Regions from separate parts of the Homo sapiens genome. Here regions 2 and 3 are each linked to region 1. Evidence: fine-mapped expression QTL. A gene starts in region 1. Each other region holds a variant in brackets. All regions are shown on one strand. Distances are between the middles of the regions.

Region 1 (2,831 bases):
GCTTTTAAAAATCAAAAGGGAGGATGCTGGAGGGTGAAACCACGGTTTAACAAAACCCGGAATGGGAAGAGGGGGAGGGGGACCCTGCCCCCACCCTGGGGAGGCTTTGACAGGGAACCAGAGAGCGGGCTGGGTGGACTGGAGGAGGCTGGGTGAACAGGAAGTCCCCCCACCCCAGTGAGCTACTTTCCCAACTGCCTCAGCCCAGCAAACAGCCAGTGGTGCCTGGACCACACCCTTCCTGCCCTGCACAAGAGGCCGCCAGTAGGCTCTCCCAGAGGCAGGGTAAAGTGGACCCCGCAGAGTGGGCGAGGACCCGTTCCCACTAAGGGCAACCGAGGGCAGGGTCCCACCACTGTCTTGGGCACCCTCCCCTCCGCCCTCCAGCAAACCACCATTCTTCTCCGAGGGCCTGTGCAGGGGTGTAGCCCCGACCTGAAACAGGGTGCCCATGACTGCTGGGGCTCGGAGTCGTCACTCCTCGGGGAGGCCCTCTGGACCACCCAATGCCCACTCTCTGTGACACCTCCCCGTTCGATTTTCTTCAGATTATCCTTGGCTGATATTCTATTTGGCCCTGTGTTCAGGGTCTCTCTCCCACTTCTAAGAGGGTAGTCTATCTCAGCCGCTGCGGGGTCACCAACAGAGCCTGGACACAGGAGGCATCTGGCAAATACGCGCTGCATGAATCAATGACTCCAGTGCCCACGCGCAAGGGGCCCCTGGGCTCAGAAAACCCCACCAGGCGGGCCCCTCCGAGCTCGGCCTGTCCTGGGGGTGGAGGAGGAAGTTCGCCCCGCGCCTGCCTCGCAACCGCAGCCGCCTCCGTGCGCTTCCTGCCCGCGCCGCCCTCCACACTGCGCTCCGTGTCTGGCAGCAGCCCCCGCCTCGCTGGGCGCGTTCCCGGGGGTCTCGGTGGCGGGAGCCGCCTTCTTGTGGGACTTGGGGGCACGTGGCGCGGGGCGGGGACGCGGACAGACCCCTCCCGCATCCTAGGAGGCCTGGGAGGGTCCGCGGGGACGCGGGGAGGGGGCACCGCCTGGCCGAGGACCCTCCCCCGGTCCTCCCCGCCCCTTCCCCGTCCCTTCCACGCTCGCCGAGGGCAGGACTTCGGTTCCGCGAGACCGGAGGCCCCTCGTCCTCCTCGGAAGCCGCCCGCGGCCGGGGACCCCAGTCCCGCAGAGGAGGGCGGCGCTGCCCCCGCCTCCCGCTTGGAGAGCGCCGCCCGCAGGTGCCCACGGAGGGGCCGCGGCATCCCAGCGCCCTCCCAGGAAGGAGCCGAGCGGATCACCGCCGGCTGCAGCGGAGGTCGGGGCGCCGGGGAGGGGCGCGGCTAGGGGGCGAGGTCGAAGGGCGGGCACCTGCGGGTGGGGCGGGGCCTGAATTAGCGGGAGCGCCCGGGAGGGGCGGGGCCGGGGCCTGCGTGAGCGGGTCGGGGAGGGGGCGGAGCCTGCGGGGGGCGGGGCCTGCGTGAATGGGGCGGGGAGGGGCCGGAGCCTTGTGAGCGGGGCGGGCCGCGTGTGCGGGGTGGGGGCGGAGCCTTATGAGCGGGGCGGGGCAGGGGCGTGGTCGGGGCGGGGCGCGCGGGCGCCCGCGGCGGCCCTCACTTCCTCTGGCGAGCGCAGCCGGGCGGAAGTGCGTCAGTTGTTATCTGTTCGGGGCGCCGCCGCCGCCTCACGAGCCCGGTGCCCAGGAGCCCGGCCGCCTCCCGCCTGCCGCCTGCCGCGCCCGCCCGGCCCCGCCCGCTCGGCCCGATCGCCGCGCCGCGCGCATGGGGCGCGCCCCCGGGGGGGCGGCCGAGGGCCGCTGAGCGCCGGGCCCGCCCCCGCCGATGCGCCCAGCCGCCCGCGCCGGGGGTCCCAGGCCGCGCCGGGCCCGGGGCTGAGCCGCCCCCCGCGCCCGGCATGCCCGGCCCGGCCCGCCGCCCGCCGCCGCCCAGGGCCCGAGCCCGCGCGGCGCACACTCAGCCCGGCGGCGCCGCGTAGCCGAGGGAGCCCGCCTGCTGCGAGCCAGGCGCGGGGCGTCAAGGTCACCGGCCCGACGGGGCGCACGCGCGGCCATGGAGGCCAAGGTCCGCCCGAGCCGGCGCTCGCGCGCGCAGCGGGACCGTGGCCGGCGCCGGGAGGCCGCCCGCGACGCCCGCGCCCAGAGTCCGTCGTCGGGCGACGAGCCCGAGCCCAGCCCCGGCAAGGAGAACGCGGGCCTCCGCGGCGCGCCCCCCCGAGGCGCCGCCCCCGCGCCCCGCACCGCGCGTCCCCCGCGCCGCCGCCGCCGCGAGTCCAGCTCGCAGGAGGAGGAGGTCATCGACGGCTTCGCCATCGCCAGCTTCAGCACCCTGGAGGCCCTGGAGGTAGGTGGACGGGTGCGGCTTCGCAGGCGTTGAGGCGAGAACGGGGCCCGGAGTTGACGCGTCGGGCGATCCCGGGACCCCTGGGCTTGCGACCGCCCGCGCCGTGGGCAGCCCTGAGGGAAGCCCCGGCCACTTGGTACCCGTTCCAGGGACCCTGGGTGCCCACCGCTCGCCCAGACCGTCGCATCTGGAAGACCCAGCAGCGTCGGGTGGGTTTGGGGACGTTTTAAGTTGCAGAGGCAAAAAAATCTACGCTTCGAAATTGGGGGCTGTCTGACAGCACCGTCGGCCTTTTATCAGTTGTGTTTCTGTGGCCAGCATATCGCTCTGCCTGGTTCAGGACGTGCTAGGGAGCAGTGCTGGATCTTAGGGAGGTGGTGATAAAATGGATACTCCGCGGGCCATCCCGTTCCCTCCTCCCTTCGAGGGCTCTGCTGAGAAGGGGAGAAGGAGGGTTAATCTCAAGACCCCTCTTGGTGAC
Region 2 (2,500 bases), 92 kb after region 1:
CTACACCTGGCTAATTTTTGTATTTTTAGTAGAGACATGGTTTCACCATGTTGGCCAGGCTGGTCTCAAACTCCTGACCTCAGATGATCCTCCTGCCTCGGCCTCCCAAAGTGCTGGGATTACAGGCGTGAGCCACTGCGCCCGGCCAATTTCACCAGTATTTTTAAAGGAGCAGCTCTGACCTCGCTGCCTTCTCTGTGTGTTTCCCTGTGTGTCGCTCACTTTTCTGGCCCTGTCTAGCTTGATCTGGTGGTTGAGAATATTAATTCCTCAGCCTCTCCCAGTGCGGGCATTTGAGGCAGTGTACTCTCCATCTCCTCCTGCACACGCTTTGACAAGCTGTGTTTTCGTAGCATGGGGCAGGCTGTCTTCCTCTCTAGTTTAGAAGAGTGGCATCAGCTTTCATGCCACAGCTCAGTGGAGACCAGAAGCTCTGAATACAACTTGCCGCGTCCTACATGGGAGGCATGAGCACCCCATCTTTGAGGTCCCTAAGATTAGGGCTGGGAGGGAGTCGGAGTAACCTAAAGATGACGCCCTGCTGGTCTTTACCAGAAACCTGCTCTCTGGACCCATGTGGAGGACGGCCCCTGACCAACAGCACTGAATCCCCTGCAGCAGCCCCTCCCAGGGCCCGGGCCCAGGCCCCACACGGTTGCTCTCCAAGGGTTGTTGGGGGGCCAGGGCTGATGTTGACGTGGTGCTGTGGGCTGGGCCTGTGCCCAGGAATGCCACAAGGGGCTGCCATGTGCAGCCTCCAAGACAGAACCGTGTCCATCCAGGCCTGAGGCCCAGCACCACATTAAGAAGTGAGGACCATCTATCAGCTCCCAGGTGAAAGCTCTGAGATAAAGGCTTCAGGAGTGGTCCGATCAAGGTGCATGTTACTTGGACTTTGTCTCTGCCCAAGTTGCAGCCCCTTTGCTCCGAGGGTTGCATCGCACTCAGCACCTCCCTCCCTGCCCCCCTTGGGGTCCCAGGATGGCTGCCACTGCGGCTCCAAGTCAA[ACCT/A]CCTCCGAATTGTGGGGTAGATTCCACCTCTTACTCTGACTGGACACGCTTCACCCCTCAGGGCATGCGAGAGAATGGGAGGTGAAGGTTCACAGAGGAAATTGGGGTGCTCCCTGTGAACAGAGCTGCAGATGGGAGGCCCTGGTGCTCTCTCCTGGCTTCTGTCAAACCTGGCTGCCCCCCCCAGGTGCCGCCCATCCTGCCTCCAACCCATTTGGACCCTCAGCCCATCCTGGCAGCTTCCTGCCCACTGGCCCCCTGACAGGTGGGTGTCTCTGAATTCAGCCCACGCAGCCTGGCTGGTTCCTCAGCAGCCTTGTGGCGGGGGAATTAGGTGGGCGGGAAGGTGGCCCCGAGCCCCAGGGAGCCCCTTGGGTCATGCAGGCAGTACCCACCAGGCCCAAAGCCTCTACAGCAGCCCCCACTGGGCCAGGTGGGAGCCGCAGCCCACGCCTCACAGACCTCTGGGTCCCGCGGTTGCCCCCACAGACCCTTTCAGCAGACCGAGCACCTTTGGGGGCCTGGGCAGCCTGAGCAGCCACGCCTTTGGGGGCCTGGGCAGCCATGCACTGGGTGAGTGACCCAGCCTGTGCCCCCCTCCCCCGATGCCCGCGCCCCTCCCCCATGCCTGTGTCCTCTGCAGGAACCCCGATGCCTGGCTGACCTCCCTCCTCTCTGGGCTGGGCCTCCTTGGGGCACCCCCTTCTCAGTGTCAGCCTGGGACCCTTCTAAAACCCCTACCGGGTTCTCCTGGGGAGTGGCTGGGGAGCAGACAGACCCAACCTCATGCTCCCCGGCCTCTGCCCCCAGCTCCCGGTGGCAGCATCTTTGCCCCCAAGGAGGGCTCCTCCGTGCACGGCCTGCCCAGCCCCCATGAGGCCTGGAACCGACTGCACCGGGCACCGCCCTCCTTCCCGGCTCCGCCCCCGTGGCCCAAGTCCGTGGACGCGGAGCGGGTGTCAGCCCTGACCAACCATGACCGAGAGCCGGACAATGGCAAGGAGGAGCAGGAACGGTGAGTGGCCCTCTTGTTCCGTATCCCCACCACACACCCCTACCCCGTTCTTTCCCCCCTCCCGTCATCCCCGGTTCCCCCTCCCCCGTTCCCTCTTCTCCCCGTTTCCTCTCCCTCACCGTTCCCCCTCCCCCTGTTCCCCTTCCCCGTTCCCCCTCCCCCATTCCCTCTCACCCTCCTCGCCCCACTGCTGCGCACTCACAGTCTGTCCAGCTCTGCTGAGCCCCGGGGTACGGGGGCCAAAGCTCTGCTCCCCGGCGACTCCTCCCTGCGGTGGGGAGTGAAGCCTGGGCCCTGGGGCTAGGAAGGATGAGGAGGGTGAAGACCCCACCACAGGCACCCACACCTGCCATCCGGGAGACCTCCAGGTGGCCGCGCCCTGACCCACGGAGTTTGAGGGAGGAGTTCGGGGGTGCGGCTGCCGGGAGGCCCCCCTGTCCTAACAGGGAGGGGCCCGTGGGGAGCCGAAGTCGC
Region 3 (2,500 bases), 79 kb after region 1:
CCAGAGTGGAACCGTTAGGAATGTGTGCTCTCAGGCCCTCCCCAGGTTCGTGGGGTCAGATGCTCGGTACTGAAGGGCCACCTGCCACGAGCACCACAATCACCTGTGGCTGCTGAGTTAAAGAGAAACGGGACTGAGACTCACTTCCCTGGCTCTGCTGCCTGCGCGCCTCTGTGGTGCAGTGGAGGGGCCTGGATTGCTGTTCCAGGCCAGGCCTTCGAAACCTGTGGCTGTGAGCTATGGGACAGGGTGTCTACAGGCCAGCAACCCTCTCCAGAGGGGGTAGCCCCGGCGTCTTAGGGGCCTTCGTAACCTGTGGCTGTGAGCTGTGGGGCGGGGTGTCCACGGGCCAGCAACCCTCTCCAGAGGGGATAGCCCCAGCGTCTTCTTAGGGCCTCCCTGGCGCTGGGATCCTGGGATTCCCACACCAAGGCCTAGGCGGGCAGCATCTCCGGCAGGGCCACGGGGTCTCGGCTCCTGCCTCCCTGGGTTTCCAGCTGGAACCACCCTTTTGCTGGGACGGCTTCATCCGGATGTGATTGGACAGGACAGGCCCTGCCAATGCCGGCAAGGATGGGCCCTACTGCCCTTCAGCAGGCATGGCCTTCACCTGCCTTCAAGTTGGAAGCCTGTTCACATCAGAGCATCACAGCAAAGCAGGCGCAGATGGGGTGGTGTCAGAAGGGGCGTGCATGGGACGGGCCCCGGTAGGAGAGGCAGCTGGCTTCGCAGACGGTGTCACGCGGGGCTGCTGAATACTCAGCTCACTGCCGCGGCTGCTGCCGCATCTGGACGGACAATGTCCCAGTGAGGGCTGGAGGTGCTAGAAGGGCACAGGAGGCCCCGCACGTGGGGTCTAGTCCAGGTCTGTGCGGCCCAAGCCTCTTTCCATCCTGATCACAGCTCTTACTATATGCAAGGCTGGCTTGGAGATGTGGGAGAGAGGAGGAGAGGTCCCGTGGGGCTGACCCAGGGAGCTGGGAAAGCCGGTGGAGATAGTGCCCGTGGGCTCCCTCTCTCCTGTGTCCTCCGCGCAGCCTCTCTGTGGTCGCTGGGTGGTGGCTGCTGTGGAAGGCCTGGCCCCAGGTGAAGAGTGAAGATGGGGCTGCTTCCTGCTGCCTGTTTTCACCTGGGAGGAACTCCTTGAGGCCCCAGAAGACCAGGCCCCATGGTCACATGGGGCAGGGACGGCCGCAGCTGTCCCCATGGGCCATGGCTCACTGTCCCAAGGCCTCAGGAAGGAAGCAGGGTCTGCCGGGGACGTGAACAGGAGGCATGCGGCACGTGGAACGTTGTTTTGTTTCTCCTGCGAAACTGGCCCCCTGACCGTGGCAGCTCCTGACCCCAGGCAACAGGAGCTCCACCACATGGACGCTGCCCTCTCCTGACTCCTGGGGACTTGATCTGAGACCTGCCC[G/C]AAGGGGCCTGAAAAGGAGGGTTTGGGGTGTGCGGGGGTGGGGGGGGCAGGCCCCAGGGGCTCAGAGGGGCCCACAGGACCTGCGGGGGACGTGCCTAGGTGGGCAGAAGGGTGGCCAGGGAGCAGGGCTGAGGGTGGCGGGTGACGGGCAGTCACAGTAGGGGGAAGCCTCCCACCCAGTCCCTGCCCAAGTTTCCAGGAAGTGGTCAAGCCTTCCACCAGGGGGTTCCAGAAAGAAAAGGTGGTTACAGCTGTGGGCGCTGCTGTTGGGGTGGGGCAGACCCATGCCCTGGGCTGAGGGCACATCCAGGGGCCGTGAACATGAGGCCTAGGTACACAGGCCCTAGCTCCCGTGTTCAAATCCAGCTCCCCTCTTGGGCCAAGTCCTTGATGTATCTTGGTTTTGTCTGTTAAATGAGGTCATAGCAGCCCCTGTCCAGGGACTGACTCTTGCAGGGCCTGTCCTGTCCCTGCCAGTGATGCGTCTTCGGGCAGGTGGGCTACCCACCCCCACCCCTGGCCACGGCCCAGGCTCCCAAGCCAGCTCCCTCCGCCGGGCGGGGCCTGGAGCCTCGGGTGAGATCCAGCTAGCTGTGTGGCCTCCGTGCCTGCCTCCTCATCTGAAATGGGGGCATAGCCGGAGCCCAGACATAGCCTGGGCACCGGGCACGTACCAGGGCTCCCTGGGCCACAGGAGGGGCAGGGACGAGGCCCTGCTGGTCTGAACGCAGCCACCCTCTCTCTGCAGGCCCAGCGCTTGAGAAGTCGGAGGCCAAGGCCGGGCCGGTGCCCAAGGTGTCAGGCCTGGAGCGCAGCCGCGAGCTCAGCGCCGAGAGCTTCCTGCCCACTGCCAGCCCCGCGCCCCATGCCGCGCCCTGCCCGGGGCCCCCGCCCGGCTCCCGCGCCAATCCCTTGGTGAAGAAGGAACCCCCCGCCCCGCACCGCCACACCCCGCAGCCGCCACCCCCGCAGCCCCGCGGCCTGCTCCCGACACACGTGCCTGCATCCCTGGGCGCCTTCGCGGGCCACAGCCAGGCGGCAGCCAACGGCCTGCACGGCCTCAGGTGGGGTCCCCGCGGGGGA

Evidence for each region. PIP is the estimated chance that this variant, and not a neighbour inherited with it, causes the effect.
Region 2: its variant is the best candidate, but not a certain one, in a credible set for the expression of FBRSL1 in whole blood (INTERVAL, PIP 0.58).
Region 3: its variant is the best candidate, but not a certain one, in a credible set for the expression of FBRSL1 in whole blood (TOPMed, PIP 0.76).

Annotation. Positions count from the first base shown.
Region 1 is chr12:132,488,512-132,491,342 of GRCh38, forward strand. FBRSL1 (fibrosin like 1) reads left to right here and starts at 1,640. Exons shown (of 19, transcript NM_001367871.1): 1 at 1,640-2,350. The coding sequence starts at 2,060. RefSeq lists enhancers at 601-730, 2,728-2,831 and silencers at 921-990, 1,121-1,570.
Region 2 is chr12:132,580,241-132,582,740 of GRCh38, forward strand. FBRSL1 (fibrosin like 1) reads left to right here. Exons shown (of 19, transcript NM_001367871.1): 16 at 1,199-1,276; 17 at 1,501-1,584; 18 at 1,822-2,026. It overlaps MIR6763 (microRNA 6763), which reads left to right and starts at 1,757; the gene lies at 1,757-1,821. The variant ACCT/A (reference allele first, on the strand shown) is at 1,009.
Region 3 is chr12:132,567,761-132,570,260 of GRCh38, forward strand. It overlaps FBRSL1 (fibrosin like 1), which reads left to right. Exons shown (of 19, transcript NM_001367871.1): 7 at 2,166-2,481. Among named protein-coding and RNA genes, the nearest start is that of MIR6763, 13 kb to the right of the region's middle. The variant G/C (reference allele first, on the strand shown) is at 1,418.